4 separate regions of the Homo sapiens genome follow, and regions 1, 3 and 4 are each linked to region 2. Evidence: fine-mapped expression QTL. A gene starts in region 2. Each other region holds a variant in brackets. All regions are shown on one strand. Distances are from middle to middle. Region 1 overlaps EFL1 (elongation factor like GTPase 1). Region 2 holds the start of EFL1 (elongation factor like GTPase 1). Region 3 overlaps AP3B2 (adaptor related protein complex 3 subunit beta 2). Region 4 overlaps WHAMM (WASP homolog associated with actin, golgi membranes and microtubules).

Evidence for each region. PIP is the estimated chance that this variant, and not a neighbour inherited with it, causes the effect.
Region 1: its variant is the best candidate, but not a certain one, in a credible set for the expression of EFL1 in lung (TOPMed, PIP 0.54).
Region 3: its variant is the best candidate, but not a certain one, in a credible set for the expression of EFL1 in unexposed skin (GTEx, PIP 0.82).
Region 4: its variant is the best candidate, but not a certain one, in a credible set for the expression of EFL1 in rectum (CEDAR, PIP 0.51).

Annotation. Positions count from the first base shown.
Region 1 is chr15:82,222,119-82,227,906 of GRCh38, reverse strand. EFL1 (elongation factor like GTPase 1) reads left to right here. Exons shown (of 20, transcript NM_024580.6): 11 at 335-457; 12 at 2,643-2,742. Among named protein-coding and RNA genes, the nearest start is that of EFL1, 38 kb to the left of the region's middle. The variant T/A (reference allele first, on the strand shown) is at 2,979.
Region 2 is chr15:82,259,433-82,264,820 of GRCh38, reverse strand. It overlaps EFL1 (elongation factor like GTPase 1), which reads left to right and starts at 2,087. Exons shown (of 20, transcript NM_024580.6): 1 at 2,087-2,207; 2 at 3,024-3,133. The coding sequence starts at 3,043. SAXO2 (stabilizer of axonemal microtubules 2) reads right to left here and starts at 2,003. Exons shown (of 4, transcript NM_001348699.2): 1 at 1,889-2,003. The coding sequence starts at 1,941. RefSeq lists enhancers at 1,783-1,852, 1,873-1,962 and a silencer at 3,971-4,157.
Region 3 is chr15:82,662,837-82,668,624 of GRCh38, reverse strand. It overlaps AP3B2 (adaptor related protein complex 3 subunit beta 2), which reads left to right. Exons shown (of 27, transcript NM_001278512.2): 15 at 1,692-1,878; 16 at 3,050-3,168; 17 at 3,322-3,378; 18 at 3,682-3,790; 19 at 4,135-4,258; 20 at 4,650-4,824; 21 at 5,005-5,065; 22 at 5,392-5,498; 23 at 5,703-5,788. All of the region lies in intron 3 of CPEB1-AS1 (CPEB1 antisense RNA 1), which reads right to left. Among named protein-coding and RNA genes, the nearest start is that of CPEB1-AS1, 18 kb to the right of the region's middle. RefSeq lists silencers at 5,211-5,411, 5,154-5,448. The variant G/A (reference allele first, on the strand shown) is at 2,521.
Region 4 is chr15:82,817,560-82,823,347 of GRCh38, reverse strand. WHAMM (WASP homolog associated with actin, golgi membranes and microtubules) reads right to left here. Exons shown (of 10, transcript NM_001080435.3): 4 at 5,259-5,428; 5 at 3,860-4,025; 6 at 61-248. Among named protein-coding and RNA genes, the nearest start is that of WHAMM, 11 kb to the right of the region's middle. The variant C/A (reference allele first, on the strand shown) is at 3,298.

The sequences.
Region 1 (5,788 bases), 37 kb after region 2:
ATATAAGTAGATGATTTAGATGTTTGTGTTAGATAACTGTTTCATTTCAAGGTCACCTGTAGCCAACCTGCTAAGCTCTGTTCTCATTTGTTTCATGGGCCTCAGTGTTAAAGTATCTGTCATGAGGATCCTTTCTGAGCTTTAAGGAGTTTGTGAACTCCCTGAAATTGTATGCATGTTTTGAGATGTGATGCATAAAGCAGTGTTGCCTTGTAGCACAGGCATTTTCTGTATGGACAGACTTTGTTACCTCAATATTTAGTGCATACAGTGAATCTTCGCCTTGGTGGGAGGCACTGGCTCAAGGTTTTCAGTCCTTAACAATAGACTTCAGCTATGGTGTGTCAGAAACTTCCTAGTCCCCTTGATATTACAGCTGAGAGAGTGGAGAGACTGATGTGCACAGGATCACAAACTTTTGACTCTTTTCCACCAGAAACTCAAGCACTGAAAGCAGGTGAGGAAAGATGGACCTGTTGGAATATACCATGTCATTGACTGTCCTCCATCCAGGCTGCTCTAGACCAGTTTGCTGAACGCTAGTTTGCTAAATGGCCAATTTGCCAAATGTCCACTTCCACAGATGAACAGTTTCACAAATGACCATTTCACCAGTTTTGCCTCCCACCCTCACCCCAAAGGTTTTCTTGTTACAGCCATTTTGCTCAGGCAGTAGGGTGAGACCAGCGACTTGTACACATGCTCCTCGTGAGAAAAGAAGCTCCCATTCTGGGCTTTGTAGGTTCCATGAAATTTGTCTCCACGTATTTTCTTATCTCTAATTCTTTTCCTCCAGTTCTATTGGTTTTGTAACCCTGCCCCCAAACCACTACACTGTTATTCTTGGCATCACTATTGACTTTCGGTTCATTAAATCTAATGGCCAGTTTTCAGTCTTCACAGGACTAGATCTGTCACTAGCATTTGACGCAATTGATCACTCCTCCTTGAAACACTTTCGTCCCTTGACTTTTAGGCTTCCATTGCTTTCATTCCCTTGCTTCTGCTTTTCTTCGTGTCTCCCTGGCTGCTTATCCTTAATATCTCTTTTTGTGATTCCTCCCCATCTCCCTGGCTTTTTAACTTTGGGGTGCCTCAAGCAAGGTTCAAGTCTTTGATCCTCATCTGTTTTATCTGTAGTCCCTCTTTTGATAATTGTACCCAATCTCAAGACTTTAAATGACAGCTACATACTCATAATTCCCACGATTATGTGTCTTCAGAGCATGTCTGTTTTCTGGACTCTGGACTGATATCTAGAACTCCCTCTACACTGTGTTGTCTAAGAAGCATCTCAACTGAACATATCCCCAACTGGACTTTTTATCTTATCCCCAAGCCTGCTCACCTAGTCATTCCCATCTCAGTTAGGGAGACCTCAATCTTTTCATTTACTCAGTCCAAAAACCTTGGAGTCATCTATGGCCCTTATATTTATCTCACACTCCAACATCCAGTCCATCAGCAAATCCTGTTTATTCTTCCTTTGAAATACAGAATTCAACTATTTCCCAATGTTTTCACTTCCTGGCCAACATGGTGAAACTCCGTCTCTACTAAAAATACAAAAACTAACTGGGCGTGGTGGTACACGCTTGTAGTCCCTGCTACTCGGGAGGCTGAGGCAGGAGGATCGCTTGAACCTGGGAGGCGGAGGTTGCAGTGAGCCGAGATAACGCCACTGCACTCCAGCCTGGGCGACGGAACAAGACTCCATCTGAAAAAACAAACAAACAAACAACAACAACAACAATGAAACAACTAGTATCCCTGCTTCTGCTCTTGATTCCTGTTAGTGTTTTCTCAACTATTGCAGACAAAACAGAGTGATCCTCTTAAGATATAAATCAGGGCATGTCATTCTGTTCCTCATTCAAAGCTTCCACTGGCAAGACTTCTGATACATGTTTGATTCTTACTTCCTGTGGTTTTCTTTTTTCTTGTTTGTATTTTACTGTTGAATTCTTTATATATAAATTATTTTAACGTGAGGTGATGGAATTGTTTTAAAAAAATTCATTAATCAATGTTTTTTTACCTCCAGTATAGGTTAAGGAAAATGTTCATATGTTAATATGAAATTGCATTAAAATTTGTGTATTTAGGGAGAATTGGTATCTTAATAGTATTGAATCTTAATTTATTTCTAAGAATTTGTTAATATCATAATACAGTATTTTTGTCCATTTTATTTTCTAACTTGTTATTGTGGGGGATTGGGAAAGCTATTGATTTTTATGTATCTTATTAACAAGCTACCTTGTTGATTGTTGGCCTTTGGTAACATTCCTCAATTCTATTTTCTATACTTGATACAGTGAAAAATGTATTAGTGCTTATGGTAGGTGGTTAACCTCATTGCATAGCTTTAGCTTTCATATGAGATCCCTCACCCTGTCAAATTTGCTTGCTTTTCTTTTCTTATTTCTGCCAACTGTTTGCTCTTGCTCTGCTATTCTTTCCTAGCAATCTTACCCTTTTCTAATTAAAATTTTTATCATAGTTGGAAAAAGTTATGGACTTCTGGTGTATTTTGATGATGCCATCCATGTTCTAAACATTTTAATTGTTTTCCAGAAAAATCTGTTTTTTTTTTTTAATAATGGGAAAAATAGTGACATTTTTACTTCCTATTTGTTTAGCTTTTATGAAATGTGGAAGTGAGGACACTGCTCCAGTTATTATATTTGTTTCCAAAATGTTTGCAGTTGATGCTAAGGCCTTGCCTCAGAATAAGCCAAGGTAAGGGAAAGGGGAAAGTTGGGCTGGGCTAGGAATATGGTGTATGTTTGGTGGGATGCAGTTGGGCTGTGGGTAGGGGGGGCACGGATAATGCTTTTCCTCCTCAACCCAGAATTCATATCAAGCCAACCCCCAGGGTAACATACAATTTATACAGTAGTATATCCTTTTGTGATACCTCTGTAGGAGAAAGTTGTTGAAATCAGCTCTGGAATATTGAATTGAAGTGATGTAAG[T/A]TTGAAGAGTATGTTAGCAGTAGTAGCAACAATTAACTTTTATTAAACATGTCAGGCAAGTTCTAATCTAAGTCTGCCTTGTCTCATCTAATTCTGCCTACCTCAGTAGAGATTATGAATGTATGAGGATCTCTGCTTCCCTGTGTGTATTATGTGTGCACAGGTGTGATAGGTGTAGGAGAGGGATATTCCTCAAGTTCCAGAGTCTTGGGGAATCTGTGTCTTCTACATTTCCTGTTTTTTATGTGTGTTCCCCTCCTTCTGTCTCTGCTGCTTTCCCCACTAGTTTAGATTCTGATCATCTCTTGTGGATATTGTTGCAGCAACCTCCTAGCTGGTTCTCCTGCCCCATCTTTAGTTCCACTGATCCACTTGCCATTCTTTCTTTAGAGTGATCTTTATAAGACTCAGCTATGAAGATATGTCTCTTGCTCAAAAACCCTTAATGATCCTCACTGTCTTGAGCAGTTTTGATTCAAGTGTAAAGTGTTGGCGATGATTTCAGTGGTACTTAGGGAAACAAGTTTTAATATAATTAGTTGTCATATTTATTTTAATGTGTATTTGTGTGTATTGCCTGTGTATGTCAAGTGATAAAGCCTTTACCATGATGAGATTTTAAAGTTTTATTGAGTTAAAAATGTTTGTGCATTTAAATAAGTATTAAATAATAATATGCAGATATAGCAGAAATCATGAAAATGATATGTGAGTGACTGAAGGTCAGATCATCAGCCCGTGAAATAAACTTGACCTGTCTTAGTGGCATTTCTGACCCACCATGACCTGACCCCAAACCATGTTTCGACTAGATTTTTATTTCTGTTTCTCTAATATACTAGTGTCTGAACAAATGTCCTATCTGTACTTGTGCTGTTCCTCCATCTGAGAAGGCTTCTTTTCCTCTGATAAAATTCTGTTTGTCCTTCAGGGGAAAGGTTATGCTTTGTTTTTTAGTACTTCCCTAGTGATTTGGACATTAAGTGTATTCAATAATTTTTGTCCTGGGGATAAGTAAAGGAATAGATGGGTGAGTAAATGAAGAATGAATGAGTGAATATCCAAATGGGGGAATAACAGGTCAGTGAATGGGTGAATGAGTGGCTAACTGAGTAAGTAAGTGAGTGAATAATGGAATGAATGAATGTCTAATTATGTATCTAGGCTACTCCCAGATAATATTTCAGTGCTACATGTAGTAACAATTTCTTGTAGTAACAAATGTAGGATATTGGATGTTTTTTGGCCATTGGGAGTATCTGAGAGATTCTGGTAGAATCATAGGGAATATCAGAGAATTGGAAAACTTGCTGTTAAGATTTGAAATACATGTATTTATAGCATTTAAAATTCCTAGCTCTACCCATCCTTCATTTCTTGCTGATGAATAATAGTATTATTATGCCTCTACTGTTAATTACATTTTCTGTGAATGTTTTTCCTAATAATTCATCATATGCTTTTCTGATTTTAGTATATTTCTGATAGTGCAATCCATTCTATTCCATGAAGTTTTTTTACTGATTTTATTTTTGTCATTGTTTTTTAACCAGTATATCAGGTTCAACAATTGTTACATAATAATATAGTGTTTTCAGGTATACCTGGGCAAGGTCATCACCATTACTTTGTTCTTTTCCATCTTCTAGCTGATTTTTTTTTTTCATTTAAGTTTTATTTTTTAAATTTGGGAAAATGTACCATTGGAAGTTGGTTTGATAGCATTTTCATCTCCATTGTATTAGACATACAAGCCAGGAATAGCAGAGTATTATTTTCCTTTAGTATAGAGTACAATGTATTAGTGATATGTGCCAGGGAGAAAAGTAAGGCAGGAAACAGGATTCGGCGCCCACAAAGCCTAAAAAATTTTTTCCCTAACTTAGTGAAGACACTGACCTTTACTCACTGCTCAACAGTGCCACTGTGGTTGTAAATGAAGTGTGGGACTGTTACAGGACTTTCTCCTCTGTTCTTGTGTTCTTGCCTCTTTTCTTTGCTTCTTCAAATTCACCTTCCAACCTGACATTTGAATCTTCGGTCAACATTCTCACCTCTGGTCTCCTTCATCTCAGTATTAGTAACTATTGCCCCTTCAAGAAGTAACATCCATGGTTAGTTTAACTATAGCCTAAATAACTTAACACTCACAACTGTTTCCTCACTAGTAGGGCCCCATTTTCTTGTAATTAAATTTCTTTGTTCTCAACAAATGCTGGATACACAGTGGGTACTTTTTACACATCCTTGCTGATTACTATCTGCTTTGTTCCCCGCTACCATCATTCCCAGTGCCCAGCAGTGTGTGGCACACAGTAGTTGTTAACTGGATGGATGGATAGATACATAGATAGACAGCAGGCATCTATACAGTTGATGCTTACTTAATGACTGTACATGCTGATTATTCCAGATCACTTCATGAACTTAGACAGATGAGGATTTAATCTGCAAGTGAACAAATACACTTCTTTTTTCACTAAAACTAAAGTGAAATCACATTTACATAAGATGACAATTTTATCTTTAATTCCTCTTGAAGGAAAGACATAACCTGGTGATAATGAGCATAGACTTCAGAGCCATACAGATCTGGATTTGAATTATGGCTCCTCCATTTAATATCTGTGTGACTTTGGGTCGAGTTACTTAAGTTTCCAGTCTCCCTTTTCTTATATGTAGAATAGGAATACGATATCTACTTCATTTAATTGTTGTGATAAATTATGTGCTATAATATATGTAAAGTGATTAACAGTCTCTGGATCATAGTGATAAACCTGTTGGAAGAGACCATTTCTCTTTAGATG
Region 2 (5,388 bases):
AAGTTGTTAGGCGGCATCTTGATTTGCAAGCTGGTTTCCTAACTTGGCAGCTTCTTGACCTTGGAAGAGACGAGTGATTCTGGAGTCTACAGCTCTGTTGCAATTTTCTGATTATGGCAGAGGCAGTGGCTCCCTTGTCAGTCCTGGTCTGTGGTAAAATTTTTGTGGAAGCTTATTTTGAAAATGATTTCTTAAGTTCTTCCAAGTGAACTATATATATACTCCTTAATAAATTCCTTTTTGCCTAGACTAACCAGAGGAGATTACGTTATCCACAACTAAGAACCTTGACCAATATATCATATAAGCTAATAGTATACAGTTATTTAAGAGAATGAGGGTGGTCTTTATGCATGATCATTGGAAGTTGGTGAGATTGTAAATAGTAAAAAACCGGATTGTAGAATAGTATGCTCAGAATATTCTCTTTTTTTGTTAAAAAAAAAAAAAAATCAATGCAGGCCAGGCGCAGTGGCTCACGCCTGTAATCCCAGCACTTTGGGAAGCCGAGGCAGGCAGATCATGAGGTCAGGAGATGGAGGCCAACATGGTGAAACCCCGTCTCTACTAAAAATACAAAAATTAGCTGGGTGTGGTCGCACGAGCCTGTAATCCCAGCTACTCAGAGAGGCTGAGGCAGGAGAATTGCTTGAACCCGGGAGGCGGAGATTGCAGTGAGCCGAGATTGCGCCACTGCACTCCAGCCTGGCAAGAGAGCCAGACTCTGTCTCAAAAAAAAAAAAAAAAAAAAATCAATGCATATGTAAAACAAGTCTTAAAGAACATTTGTTATCTGTGGAAGATAGAATTATGAAGGCGTTTTACAATATTATAGATATTTTTGCTTAGATTTTTATGATACTTCTTGTGTATTTATTGCATTGTCAAAAAATAAAAATAAACCCTTAAAAAGACAAAACTAACAACCACAGCCCAAAACAAACAAACAAGAAGTAAAATCACGCCATTCCAATGGTGGCCCTCAACATAATGAAGACTGAATTTCCTTACAGTTGAATGAGAAAGGAACTTGCGTTGAATATAAATTAGGAGAAAAGTAAAAATTTTCTCCTGCACACCAGTCTGAGGATTCATACACCCAAAGTTAATTTGTTGATATTTTAATCTATATATAATTATGAACTGTGTTTATTATGAGACTATTAAAAAAACTGCTTTCCATCAACATGTAGGTGTTTTCTTTGAATGGGATTACAAATACACCAGGGATTGACAACGTTCATATTTACTTAGCAAATAATGATCTAATCCCTGGGTCAATAGTGAAGCTGAGGAAGGAGAGGACTGTGTTTACAGGTGATGGAAGGTTGTTAGGCAGGACTCACAGTTGGATTCTAGATTTCAGGGTAGGGACTACTTACTGACTTTTCAGTCAGGCGGATCCCAAAGAACTGCTGCCTGGACGGGAATGGGAATATGGTCTGGCTGGGAGGACAGAAAGCTACAGATGAAAGAAAATGTGATATGGGTTGCAGACTCAGGGCCTTGAGCACTGTTCTTTCTCATCTTCGTGGTGGGGGATTATGGGGTGGAAATGCACTCTCCCAGTCGGATCACATCCCACTACTCACCAGCGTTATATCCCGTCGCGGCTTCACATATATTACTTACCTGGCCCGGGTGGCATTTTACTTTGCATCCTTGATTGGGAGTCTCAGGGGCTACGAACAAACGTTTTACCCCCGGGTAGCAGGCGGGTGAGGAGCGAGTATTCGCGGAGCGGGATAAGTGGGGATGTCGCTGCGCCCTCGTCCCTTCATCTCCGGGGGACGGCCACTCTCAGGGTTCCCGAGGAGCCGGCTCCGTGCACCTAGGCCCTAGGTCGGCTCCCAAGCCCGGGCCCGCCGCTACACCAGCCGTTTCTTACCCGCAGCTACAAATCTGACACAGACACCAGCTCCTCATACTCTTGGCTCCCATGCTTTCCTCCACCGCGCCTCAGCACTTGCAGCTTCTCCACTCCCACAGCGCCCGCCGTAGTCAAGGCAACAGAGGGATGCCCGGTGACAGACTCGGCGCCGGCTTCCGGCGGCGTCAGAGACGTGCGGGTGAAAGGTCGAGCGACAGCCGGCCCCGCCCCCTGGCGCGCGGGCGTGTCGGACCCGCAGAGCTCTCGGACTTTCGGAAGCTCTCGGTGTGGGTGCGACCCGAGAGAAGGAGCGGGGCTGGTGGGGCTGCTGCAGCCGGTGAGTGTGGGCTGGCGCTGGGGGCTGGAACCTCCTAGGCCAGCCTTTGGGCGGTGCCGGAGGAACCCGCTCGCTGCGGCTCTGAGGCGGGAACAGGGGCTGGGGCCGAGCGCGGGCTGGGAGCTTCGGTCCCCGGAGTGCCGCTTCCCGTCTGGGGCCGGGGCGGTCGCCTGTCTGTGTGGACCCAGGATCCTCAAAGAGAACGAATCTGGGACCCTGCAGAAATGAAGGGCATGTAGTGTAGAGGTTTTTCCTTTTTATTTAGAAAGGAATGAAAGACCGGCAGTGCACCTGCTTGGATAATAAGCACGTGACCCAAAACTTTGTTCGGGCTCCATGGGCAGGAATAAAGCTGGGTATTTGACCTCGCGCGAGGACGAGCGAGAATGTCAGAATGAGGGACTTGGGGGAAGACTGAAGAGAGAAAGGGAGCATCTTCTTCAGCATTTTCTCTCCCTCCTGGATGCAACCCTTCCTGTACGTGGTCATTGGCCTGGAGATGTTTACTGGAGTACTCCTCCACCGGCAGGGTTACTGGTGTCACTGTGCACCCAGTCCCCTCGAGCTGCGTGATTCATCGCAGCCTTTGGATCCGGAAGGATGAGCAAACTCCTTAAGTGTAATCGTGGTAGGATACTGACTTTAGTGCTCGAACTGGACTTAGGCCTTGGTGGTCTATCTCATCAATAAACATTCACTGGGTTCTTGGTTTAAGGGGTTTGAGAAGCTTGCCACCTCCCAGCGTTTATTATTATTTTTTTCTTTTGCCCCGACCTTTAGCCTCTGGGCCATTTGTAATACATATTTAATTTTTAGTCACAGGAAATAAGTAATCATGGTGCTCAACAGTTTGGATAAGATGATTCAACTCCAGAAAAACACTGCCAACATCAGGAATATTTGTGTTTTGGCTCATGTTGACCATGGTAAGAATACTTTTTAAATGGCTTATTTTGATAAATAAGGGAGATGTGTCTCTGTATGTCTCAGTGGAGTGAAGCTGTGGACAGCTGAGAGTGATGTTTGCTAAGAAGCAAGTCTTCTTTCTTTAAAAGTTTTGTGTGATGTTAGGGAAGCCTGCTTTGCTATAAAGCATTTGAAATGAACACGGTTACCTAGTGAGTAGCATTCTTCTATATATTATGTCATGTTGTTTTTTAAAGCAGAACTTGAATTTTTTGTTTTTGAAATGGCTTTACATATAAAATGTCTGTAGTCTTGACATAATGTCCTTAGAGTCTGTGGTATGTGATCCTATTTAATTCATCAGATATTTATCAAACGTCTGTTAAGTTCAAGATATTTTGCTTAGTATGTCTGAAGGTGGAGATTTATGAGTAGGGCACTAGCCCAGGGGAGGTTTTAACGGGGAGCAGAGCAAAATGAGACAAACAAGAGAAAAAAGTAGACTCTAAGGTTGGGAGAACTAGAGGATTAGGAAGTGAGGGGTTAGGAAAAGACCTCACAACATAATTAGTATTAGAGATGACACTTGAAGGGGGCTCAAGATGACAAATGGAGATAATCATTACAGGTGGGAATGTGTCATCAAGGGGAGAGGGAAATATATGTGGTCAAAGCCCAGTATATGGGAAAGGCAGAGATAGCTAACCCATGGTATGTTCTTCTGACAGATACTGCTGTAACTCCATAGCGCTCCTTCATGCTAAGCCTCCTCTTGATTTCAAACCTCTTGGTAGTTTAGGTAACCACAGCAAAGTGATTGGGATGGGCATATGAAATAAAACATATTTACCATCCTGAAGATGAAGGACCAGTTGGCGAGGTGAAGAAGCAGGCTGAGTCATATCTCATAGAGCTGCTCATGCCAGCTAGGAACTGGGATAAGAGTTGAGTGCTCCAGCTCTGGAGTTAGACAACCTAAGTTCAGATCTCCATTTTCAAGTTACATACCTTGCCTTTTTGAGCTTCAATATACAGCATCTGTAAAACAGGATGAAAACTATACCTGCTTTATAGGCTATAGGATTAAATGTGATAATAATGAGAGGGAAGGTAAACGCTTCACCATGAAAACGATCATTAATGTCTACTATTAGGCAGTAGGGAGCCTTTGGGGGAAAACATGGAGCAGGAATGATGTAATCAAATAAAACATGAGAAAGATTAGATTGGTAGACATGCTTAGGATGGATCCAAAGTCAGAGATTAGGTGGCTGTTGTCATTGATAGAAGAGCTGAAGTAATGTGAGTATGGAAACTGACAGAAAGACAGATAGTGGATCACTTACAAGTGAAGCCAGCTGTGAATGAGTTTTAGTACAAATCCAGTGAGTAACCCCTGCCTCCATGAGTTTTTATAATTTTACTGCTCACATTTTGAGAATGTGAAGGCTGATAAAAGGGTTTTTTTTTTCTTTATGAATTTATTCAAGTGGAAAGTTAGTGGGGTGTAACAAATTACTTTAAATGTATTGTTTAAAATTATGTTAAGCTGCTACTATCCTAAAAAACCTGGGATTCATCCATTCAACAAGTATTTTCTGAAGGTCTTCTATATGACAAGCGTTGTTCTGGTCCTAGGGATACTGCTGTGAATAAAGCAAAGTTCCTGCTTGCTTGATAATTATTTTCTAGGGAGGTATATACTTGGTGTACTTAGAATAAATTCAGCTTTACTGGGTAGCAGGAAAGTGATGCTCTAGGATTATATGCTAATACATATTTACATTGCAGACAGATAGCAGTGTTAAATATCTTCAGTTCTCCTACTCATTGGTCTCTGGTTTGAACAATACAGAGATTCCATAGCTTTGCTGAAGTTCCTAAAGTGCAATAAAGACTTGTCTTGAAGGAAAAAAACCCTCCTTTGCTTACTCCAACCCAGTTGTAGTAATTATGCATACCCCTGACATTCTTTACACAGAATCACCTGTTTATATCACATAAAATCTCATAGACTTTAGTTGTATGTAGTCTGCTTAATAAAAGTAACTATAAATATATTCGAAGATTCTTTTGCTTTAAAGTAGATTCCTAGGTTTAGATTTGGATACTAGGTTTCATTGGTTGTTACAGTATGTTTATGCCCTCCACATGCTATATTACAAACAGTAAGAGATATGGATAATGTTCCTGAATTTCTTTGATAAGTAAGTATTTTCTTAAGACAGTTTAGCAAATTCCAGCTGAGGCCATGCATGGGGAAATATGGCAAAAG
Region 3 (5,788 bases), 400 kb before region 2:
CCCTTCCTGTGTTGGTTGTTAACATGCAGTTAAGGCTGTGGACAGATGGATCCAAATACCAAACAGTTCTTTCTAGAACTAGGCAAGGACTTGAAGGAGGGAGTCTGTGATCAGCCAGCTGGGAAATCTGTGGAGGAAGACATTGTCCAAACCAAAAGAGGGATCAGCAGCCTCTTGATAATTGACTATGTTGGTAAGGGCATCCACTAGCCCTGGCCATTTAGATGGTGTCTGGCCAAGAGAGGGGCAGGTTGGTGATGAAATCTGTTGTGATGGCATCTTATTTTCATATTTTTAAGTCTATTCTATTAGCGGTGCATGGGATTGGGATTGCTTATCTGTGACTATAACAGTATCGCAGGTGCTGCTTTGCTGGAAGGGACTGAGCTGAAGAGGGCCTGTGGGCCAGATTGGAGGTAGGAATGTGGAATCATAGTGGCTCTCTAGAGTGGTGTGGGGCAATTCTGCCAAAGCAGCTGCTCAGACTCTGGGTCAGCATCTGAGGGGCTTTGCCCCTTATGGACATCTGCTTGATGTCCCTGCCAGATTAGCTGGGTTAACCATGTCCAAGGCTACACGTAACAGTATGTCACCATAAACCTCAGGAAGAACAGAGTCAGTTCCAGGCTCCCTCCTGCCGGCCCCTGATGCCCTTGGGCATTCTGCTTGTTGACCACTTGGTGGTTTTGATCTTGGTCACAAGTGATGGAAACATGGAGACCTGGGCCAGGGCAGGCTCCTTATGTCAGCAGGTAGGCAGTGAAGGGAAGCAGATGGGGTGCAGCTCCAGCAGATGCAGGCCTAGGTGCAGTACTGATGGGCTCCTTGGCCTGGGAAAAGCCCCTTAATGATCCTGCTTCTTTTCTGTAAAATGGGGGCAATAATGCCTACTTCTCAGAAGGCTTGGGGAGATTAGATGAGCTAGTGTGGAGCACCTAGCACAGAGTTGGTGCCAGAAGGCACTTGATAAGTGATGGCTGCTACCGCTGTTGCCATGTTAAGGCAGGTTAGATTAGGCCAAGATCATGGCAGAAATGGAGATATTTTAGGTCTGCAGTTGTAGCTTCCCTGACTGCAGACTGTGAACCCTACATGACCTTGGCAAATGCATGGGCAGCTGCAGTTTGCCCTGATGTCATTAGAAGCTTCCAGGGAAGGATAAAGACCTCTGAGACCCCTGGGCTGCTCAGAATCTACTAAATGGGTGGATAGGGCATGAGGGTGGCCCCTGCCAAAGGGACCCCTGTTTATCTGCCCTGTCTTTTTGTTGTCTAATTCCCCCTGGGTGGTGGAGCCTGGAAACTGTGAGGTCCAGCAGAGCATTCCATACTTCCACATACCCTGCTGCCCTAGAGTAAAGAGGCTGGACAGGCCTGGAGTGGTAGGGACCACAAATCTAGGGAAGAATGGAGTCCAGAGCCAGGAGTGGGGAAAGTCCAAAAGGAAAACCTCTTTTGTTGGCCCAAGGCAGTTGTCAAAGTTGGGATCATCAGGAGGCATGTCCAGAGAGATGAGAGAAAATTCTGAGCCCAGAACAAGGGCAGGTGGGGAGGGACAGCTGGGTGGAAGCGCCGGTCCTAAGCAGGGAGAGGAGACGTTCTGCCTGAAAGTGTCGGCTTAAAGAATCTGTTTCTGAGCCTCCTGTGTCCCCATCCCCCCGTCAGCTGACCCACCTCTTCCTGTTCCTCCAGACCAAGCTGCTGACCCAGTATGTGCTGAGTCTGGCCAAATATGACCAGAACTATGATATTCGCGACCGGGCGCGCTTCACCCGGCAGCTCATCGTCCCTTCCGAGCAGGGTGGGGCCCTCAGCCGCCATGCCAAGAAGCTCTTCCTGGCACCCAAACCAGCTCCAGTCTTGGAGTCATCCTTCAAAGGTGGGAGCTGAAATCAAGGGTAACCTTCCTAGGGGAATGGAAAGGAACTGGCCAGAGTCTCTGCCCCAGACCTTCCTGAGGCCCCTAGCCAGGCACCAGGCTTCTGTGGACAGTCCTGCTCCCTGGCTCACTCCTTTTGTCCCTCCTGTGGCACCAGGAATTACTCTTTCACCCTCCCATAACCACTGCCAGCATCATCTCACCTGAGGGTCTGCCTTCCTGGCCAGGATGGACTTGTGCCTCCTCTCCTCTCAGGCTCCCTTTTCCATCTCCCTCCCTGAGCAGACACTAGGCTTTGGAATACATACCAAGATCTTAAATACCAAGGACCCAGGAAGGCAGAAAGCAAAACAACACACAAAGGAGAGGTGTATATTTTTATAAAGGTCCTGAGAAAGCAGTTGCCTGCATTCTGTGAGCTTAGTCACTACAGTCAGTCCAAATCCCAGGCCCCAGGGCTTCAGCCTTGCCTCTGTTCCTGGGCTTGGCCCTTAAGGCCTCTTTTCCCAAGACAACGGCCTTGAGATGGGCCTGGGAGGGAAGGGTCCTCCCGCTGCTTCTCCGGGCCCCAGGAGTGGAAGCCAGGAACCTACACAGAAGAGAGCCTCCTTCACAAAGCTCAGTTCTTCTGGGTATCTTTTC[G/A]TTCTTTTTCTCTTCCCTGGACCTCACGAATGGGGAGATTCTGAGGGTGGGCACAGCTTTGAAATTCTCCCAGGAAGAAGGCAACAGTCCCTTTCTCCCCGACACCATCCTCACTCACAGGCCTGTGCTGCCCTCCTCCAGCAGTGCCTCAACTCTGATCCAGACTTCTACACACTCATGCTCTGACTGTTCATCCCTCCCTGCTGAGTCCAGAGCCTGACTAGACGTGCATGCTGAGCAGACAGGTCGGCAGCATCTGTGGGCCCAGAGTCTCCTCCTGCCCACCTCTGTAGGCTGCCTTTCCCTGGCCCTCAGTCCCTGCTCTGGCCTGGCCAGACAGCCTTTTCTTCCAGCATGTGGGCCTAAAGGTGCAGTCAGGGTGGAAGAGCCATTAGGGCACACATCCATCTCCTTCCCCTACCCACCTGGGAAGTCCCAACCAGAATCACCACCCAGCCCCACCTGGAAAACAGCTCCCAGAGCTTTCCCTCACTGCTGCTACCTGCCTGACCTCTAAACCTATCCCTAGACCGGGACCACTTCCAGCTGGGCTCACTGTCCCACCTGCTTAATGCCAAGGCCACAGGCTACCAGGAGCTCCCAGACTGGCCGGAGGAAGCCCCAGACCCATCTGTGCGCAACGTGGAGGTCAGCGGGGTGGAGGGTTGAAGTGTGTGTGTGTGTGTGTGTGTGTGTGTGTGTGTGTGTGTGTGTGTGTGTGTGTGTGTTGGTGGGGGCAGACAGTAGGGAGCCCTGGCAGTGCCGGCCCAGCCCTCCTAACACCCTCCCCCACACACACAGGAAGAAGATCTCTCCCTTATTGAGACTCACGTGGGCCTGTTGGGCGAATACACTGAGGTCCCACCTTCGTGTGACGTGTGCTCTCTCCCCTGCCCTGTCTGTGTCCCTCTTCTTCCCCTGTGTGTTGTGCTCCTGGGCCTTCCCATACTCTGTTTCCACCTTGGTTTGGCAGTGCTCCTCTGTGAGCAGCATTCCCTCCCCTCCATGGACAGTGCCCCTTTCTTCCTCCTCTGTTATTCCCTTTGTGGGACAGACCAGGTAGGGCCTCACAAAGAGGTGGAATAAAGGGTAAGGGCTTGTGCCTGCCTGCCTTCTCCCCAACCATGATGAAATGACCCTGCACCCTACCCCCATCTCCAGGTACCTGAATGGACCAAGTGCTCAAATCGGGAGAAGAGAAAGGAGAAGGAAAAACCCTTCTACTCGGACTCTGAGGGGGAGTCAGGCCCCACGGAGTCCGCAGACAGTGGTGAGCAGATGGCAGAGCTGGGGTCCTCTGTGCTCTGCCCATGCATCTGTGTGACTGACTATATGAGGGGTATATGTATATGGTTGTGTGTCTAGGGGTGTGCACCTGCTTGTGAATTGTTTGTGCACCTGAGGGATTCATGTTCCAGGTGTGTGTGCTTGTGCAGGTTTCTATCCATGGAGTCCATCTGTGTTTCTGTCAGTTCCAGCTGGCATGTAGGGCTGGGGGCAGGTCAGAGAGGTTTGAGGGTTCAGTACTGAATGTGAAGGTGGAACCCAGGTGTCTGCTCCAGACCCAAGGAGGCCTGCATATGAGGGAGGAGGCCTCATATTGTTCCTCCACAGACCCTGAGTCTGAGAGTGAATCGGACAGTAAGAGCAGCAGTGAGAGCGGCTCTGGGGAGTCCAGCAGTGAGTCCGACAATGAAGACCAGGATGAGGATGAGGAGAAAGGGAGAGGCAGTGAGAGGTGAGAAGGGAGCTAGCCAGATGGCTGGTGGGGTTCAGGGGGCTTTCCTGGAAAGAGGGCTAGCATTGAGCTTTAGCCAGTCTCCTAAGAGCCCCTGAGCCCCTCGTGAGCTGGGTGGGGCTGTCAGCTCACATGACGCCTACTTTCGCTGGCTGCAGGAGATCTCTGAGGCCTCATGGGCTGGTGTGGAGAAGCAACCAGAGTCCTAGAGCCTGAGCTGGCACAAGCTGGCTTCAAGCTCTCACGGGGTCCCTGCTATAGGACCTCAGGTGTGAACCCTCCTGGCTCAGGCTCCCCACACCACTCCAGCTTTTCAGCATTTCTCCTGCTTCTGTGAAGCAAGGAGGGAGTGTCCAGGCCAGGCCTGAGCCAACCTTTCCCACTCCTTCAGTGAACAGAGTGAGGAGGATGGTAAGAGGAAGACAAAGAAGAAGGTGCCAGAGAGAAAAGGAGAAGCGTCATCCTCTGATGAGGGCAGCGATTCCAGCAGTAGCTCATCAGAGTCCGAGATGACATCGGAGTCCGAGGAGGAGCAGTTAGAACCTGCCTCCTGGAGCAGGAAAACAGTGAGAGCCTTGGGGCAGAGTCAGGGTGTGCTCATGGGCCAGGGCCCTCCCCAACCTCTGGGCCAGGCCCAGACATCTATCTCCCTACCATCCAGAACAGAACATGACATCTTCTACCCAACCCAGAACATGCCAAGGTGCTCCCCTTCCCCACACCCACATCCCATTTTTCTCTTTCAGCCTCCCAGCAGCAAAAGTGCTCCTGCAACCAAGGAGATCTCCCTGCTTGATCTAGAGGATTGTGAGTTTGGGTGGTAAAAGTCACAGGGGAAAGGAGGCCTGGGGAGCATGAATTAGAACAGCCCATAGGGACTCTGGATCGGGTTCCTCAGGTCTTGTGGGAGCAGGGGAGCAGACAGAACATATCTTCAGGCCTGAGAGGGCAGCAGGGCTGACCTCCCCAGGTCTGGGGTTGAGGTCTAGGAATGGGTATTTTGCGAGAGCCTCCAGGCAGCCATGTGCCCCGCTGTCCATGGTGCTGAAATGCGTGCTCCTTGATCCCTAGGCTCCCTGCTCAACCCAAGCCACCTCCACTTTGCCTCCTCATAGTCTTATCTACTCCCACAGTCACCCCTCCCAGTGTCCAGCCTGTGTCTCCCCCAGCAATTGTGTCTACCAGTCTGGCTGCTGACCTGGAGGGCCTGACACTCACAGACTCCACCCTGGTACCGTCGGTGAGTGGGATGGAGGAGGGGACCGGGCTGGGGCAGGGACACATCCCTGTGCTGCATCCTATGGTGTGGATGTGTGTGGGGGGTGGGTGTGATGGAGGATGTGATAGCTTTGAGTCCCAGCTGCTGGATGGCCCTAGGGGACAATGCTGGGACAGGCTCTCTCCATCTTGCTCAGTTCTGTCCTTCCCTACCCCTCCACTCTAGCTTCTGAGTCCAGTATCGGGTGTTGGGCGGCAGGAGCTGCTGCACCGGGTAGCTGGCGAGGGGCTGGCTGTGGACTACACCTTCAG
Region 4 (5,788 bases), 560 kb before region 2:
TCATACAAGAATAAATCTCTGAAAGAGAAAAGAAAAGAAAGCCGCTCTGAGCGTACCTACCTTTCTACTCCGGAGAGAGGCTCTTTTGGCACAGATCCTGCCCCGTTTAGACTCCAGCTGCTGGCACTGCCTTCTGAGTTCTTTCACTTCCAAATTCTTATCATCCTGCAGCCCCACCACACAGTCAATGACTTTAAGTTCCTCTGGATTTTCACATGGATCGTAATAGACAACTTCATCTTGTTTTTCTAAAAATGTATTAATGATTGTTTAAAACATATTTTATTATTTTAAAAAATGCATTGAATTTTTTTAAATGTAAGAAAAATAAAGATCACTTGTAATCCCACCACTGAGAAGCACTATTAACATATATGAAAAATATGTGTATATGTAATATACATGCACACATGTGTATATACATGACTATATACATGTATGTAAGTAGCATGTGTGTATATCCATGTAGTGTATGCATGTATACATACATGTATATAGACATATGTGTGTATATATATATATACACACACACACACATACTACTTACATAGCTACACATATCAATGGAGTTCTAAAAGAACATTTTCCATGGGATGGAAATACATTTTTAGGCCAGGCGCAGGGGCTCACGCCTGTAATCCCAGCACTTTGGGAGGCCAAGGCAGGCGGAACACCTGAGGTCAGGAGTTCAAGACCAGCCTGGCCAACACGGCAAAACCCCGTCTCTACTAAAAATACAAAAATTAGTTAGGCACAGTGGCGCATGCCTATAATCCGAGCTACCTGGCAGGCTGAGGCAGGAGAACAGCATGAACCTGGGAGGCAGAGGTTGCAGTGAGCCAAGATCGTGCCACTGCACTCCAGCCTGGGCAACAGAGCAAGACTCCATCTCCAAAAATAAAAAAAAATTTAAAAAGATAAATTTTAATGGCAGCATAGTATTCTCTAATTTAAGCAGTCCATGTTGTTAGGCTGTTCCAATGTTCCACTATTATTCATTTCACTGTGATGAACATCCCTGTATAAATCTTTGTGTACACTTTTTATCACTTCCTTAGCAGATAAATATTTAAGGATCTTGATACCCATTGACAAATTGCCCTCCAGAAAGGCAACTTATATTCTACCAGCAATATATTATTAAGATGTCTTAGTCATATATAATCTTGATTACATATTGATTTTTTTTAAAGCCATGCTTACTGTAACAAATTCAAACCCTCCAGAAGTACATAAAACAGTGAAATTGTCTTGCTCCTTCCCCAAACCTTCTGAGTCATTCTCAGAGGAAAAACATTATGAACAATCTGGCATGCATCCTTCCAGATTAACTTCTTTTTTTAATGTAATTTTTTTCCTAAATATGTAAAATGCTTATAACCTGAAACTACTGCAAAAAATTCTGAATACTCAGGATTAAACTAAAAGTTCAGGATCTATGTGAAGAAATTTATTAAACTTGGAGGAACTTTAGGAAAAAAGATTTAAATAAATGGAGAGAGACATACCATGTTCTTGGGTAGGAAGATTCAAAATTGCAAAGACCACTATTCTCCCCAAAGTAATCTCTAATTTTAAGCAAAATCACAATCAAAATTCCAACGAGTTTTTGTTTTGAACTTGATTCTAAATTTCATCTGGAAGAATAAAGGAGTGAAAATAGTCAGAAAACTTGTGGAGAAGTAATGGGGGAGGTACTTGCCTTACCAGACCCTAAAATGTGCTTCCAAGGTACAGTCATGGGAACGGTATGGAGCCAGCAGCAGAAGCCACTCACAAACCAATGGAGGAGAACAACACAGAAACAGACCAAAGTCAATCTAATGTTTAACTTGAGAAATGTTAAACATTTAGGGAAAATGTTTTTAAAATCAGTGATTGGGACTGCTTAACAATTTGAGGGAAAGGTTCAATTCCTACGACAATCAAAATAAATTCCACCTGGACTAAAGAATTAAATGTTTTAAAAAGCAACATCATAAACATACGAAAAGAAAACATAAGCATATATTGACATAATTTTGGGATTGGAGAATATTGCCAGACATAATACTAAAAGCAGAAGCCATGGGGAAAAAAATTGATAAACGTGACTTCATAAAAATTAAATATTTCTGAAAGGCAAGAAAACACAAATGACAAGGAGAGATTATTTGCAACATATGACAGACAATAGAGGATATTATTTTTAATGTGGAAAGGAAATATTCCAAAGAAAAATGGACAAAGACTATGAATAGGCATTTCATAAAATAAGTACAAATGGCTCGTAAACATACAAAATTTTGTTCAATATTCACTCATAATTAAATAAATGAAAATTGGAAGACTGCCATTTTCTCTGTCAAGTAAGCAAAAATGCAAAAGAATGGCATGAGTCTGGGAAACATACACACTCATATTCTGCTGATGGGAGCATCTTTTTTCTTTTTTTTTTTTTTTTTTTTTTTTGAGACAGAGTCTTACACTCTGCCGCCCAGGCTGGAGTGCAGTGGCACCATCTCGGCTCACTGCAATCTCCACCTCCCAGGTTCAAGCGATTCTCCTGCCTCAGCCTCACAGGTAGCTGGGATTACAGGCGCCTACCATCATGCCCAGCTAATTTTTGTATTTTTAGTAGAGACAGGGTTTCAACATGTCGGCCAAGCTGGTCTTGAACTCCTGACCTCAAGTGATCTGCCCCACTCAGCCTCCCAAAGTGCTGAAATTACAGGTGTGAGCCACCACACCCAGCCTGGGAGCATCATTTTAAATGTACAACCTATCTAGAGGGTCATTATGTAGCATGAAATTTAGAAATCAGAAAATAATATGGAGGTGAGGAAAAATGTATCTCAGATGATTATTGTACTGTTATGTATCAAAATGTAAAATATACATTGCCCTTGACCCAATAATTCCATCCTTAGAAATTTATTCCAAGGAAATAATCTGTCCTATACTCAAAGACATGTGTAAAGTTCACTACACTACTGTTCAAAACACCTGAAATTTGGAAATCATGGTATATCCATATAATGGAATACTATGCAGCCATTAAAATTTTGATACTTTTATTATTCACTGAAATAGAAAGACAGTTATGTATTAAATGAAAAAGAGACTATTATGCATTATATGCCTATGTCAAAATATCTCATGTAACCCATAAAAATATATATCTACTATGCACCCATAAAAATTAAAAATTGTTTAAAAAGATGTTACTGAACTGGTTATATATTTTGGTTAAAAATTTATATTTTTATATATCAGCATATTTTAAAATCTACAAAGTTATACAGCAAATTGTTACCA[C/A]GAAGTATCTTTTTTTTTTTTTCCTTTTCAAGATGGAGTCTCGCCCTGTTGTCCAGGCTAGAGTGGAGTGGCACGATCTTGGCTCACTGAAACTTCCACCTCCCAGGTTCAAGCCATTCTCCTGCCTCAGCCTCCCAAGCAGCTGGGATTACAGGCACGTGCCACCACACTGGACTTTGTGTTTTTAGTAGAGACAGGGTTTAGTATTTTTGTATTTTTAGTAGAGATGGGGTTTCACCATGTTGGCCAGACTGGTCTGGAACTCCTAATCTCAAGTGATCTGCCCGCCTCGGCCTCCCACAGTGCTGGGATTATAGGCGTGAGCCACTGTGCCCAGCCAACCACTAAGCATCTCTAGATGATGGGATTGGGGTAATAATCATTTTTCTTTCTTTGTTTTGCTATGTGTTAACAATGAATATATTATTTGAATAATAAACCACTGAAGGAAAACTTTAGGAAATTTTCAGATGTTATAATTTACAAAAAGTAATTGATAATATGGTCTGTATTTCCTTAAATTTATAATTTAAACATTGCAATCTATATACTTAAATTTTACCTTTTATAAGTCTTTTAAGAGAGTCCAACTGTGTAGTAAGCAGTATTTCTTCGTTTTTTAATATCTCAAATTTAACTTCATATAGTTCTAATTGAATTTCATAAAATTGTATTTCTAATTCATCTACAACATTTGTATTTTTTTCTTGTTCTGGAAGATCTTCCATCTTATTTTCATAGAAAAAAGAAAAATAAGTTAAAATAAATTAGTATATTAAAAACAAACTTTAGAAGCATTCTAGCTATTTTCTATTCCTTGTTCAGTACTAAATATAACAAAGCAAATAGGAAAGAAACACTTTTTCATTTCATCTAGTGATGCAAATACTTTATCTCATCCTTGAAACAGAGGAAAACATTTAGGTTCTGAGAAACATAAATGGCAATGAGGTATTATTATGTACTGCATATTGGTGTCCCCCCAAAAATTCGTATGTTGACACTCTAACTCCCAGTGTGATGTTATTTGGAGGTGGGTCCTTTGGAAGTAATTAAGTTCAGATTATGTCAAAAGGATAGCACCCCCATCATGGGATTAGTGCCTTTATTAGAAGAGAAAGAGAGGGATCACTTTCTTTCTAAACATACACACAGAAGAAAGGCTATATGAGCACTCAGTTAAGAAGGCAGCTGTCTACCAGACAGGAAGAGGATCCTCACCGGACAGTGAATCTGCAGGCACCTTGATCTTGGACTTTCCAGCCTCCAGAACTGTGAGAAATACATGTCCGTTGTTTAAGCCACCCAATCTGTGATATTTAATCTTGTTATAGAAGCCTGAGCCAACTAAGACAGGTGTTTACAGTGTTTTCTGCTTTAAAGTCATAAGATTATAGGAAAAAATTTAAGTGACTATGCAGTGAAGTATCTCTTTGATTATTTTAAAGTTGTAGTGAAAACATTGCTGGGTTGATTTTCAAGTACAGTACCCATTTCAATACTGAGCTTGGTATTACTATAAAGTGAAACCTACAATATGGTATTTTGAAACATCTTAACCAAAGGAAAACTTTATGTCTAACCTTCCACAGAAGATGGTGTTGGAATAAGCGAAGAAAAGAAGCTCTTTAACGATGCCTGGAAAGAAAAGTGCTATCTAAAAATAAAAGTGTGCTTTACCACATGGTCTCACTTATAAGTGGGAGCTAAGTAATGTGTATACACAGTGTGGAATAATACACACTGGAGACTCAGAAGAGTAAGAGGGTGGGAGGGGGGATGAGAAATATTTAATAGGTACAATTACATTATACAGGTGATGATTACACTAAAAGCCCAAACTTCACCACTACACAATATATCCATGGAACAAAAACTGCACTTGTATCCTTTATTTATACAAAATGTTTTAAAAATAAAAGTGTATTTTTAAAACAAAGTTATGTTTATCTTTGTCTTACCTTTCCCTGAATTTCAGCTCTTTTGTGATTTAAACACAACTCTTTCGCTCTCATGAGTTGCAGAGTCTCTCGAGCTAGCATTAGCTGAAGTTTTTCCAACCTGGGAATTGCTGTGGCCCAGGCAGCCTGACCAAATCTCTTCGCATCCTGTTCCATTTCTTTCTGCATTCCTGTTGGATTATAAAAATAAAATATAATTACACCTCATTAAAAAGGGAAACATTTATCATGAGCTAATCCTTTTTTTATTGCCTCCATACTACCTGCAGAATATCCTTTTTAAAAGAAATTTTATTAACTTTTTTATTATGATAAAAATAATACATGTTCATTGATATAAAATTTTAGGTATTCCATTTTTAAAAAGACAGTAAGTCATGATCTCACCTAGTTGAGGCAACTGCTTCTTATATTTTGGCACACTTGCTTCCATATTGTTTCTATGTCTAGCTAGACAGACAGGCTCATATGGATAGTTTGACCACAAAACCAGGATCATCATTCTGCTTTCTATCTTGTTGATTCTGCAC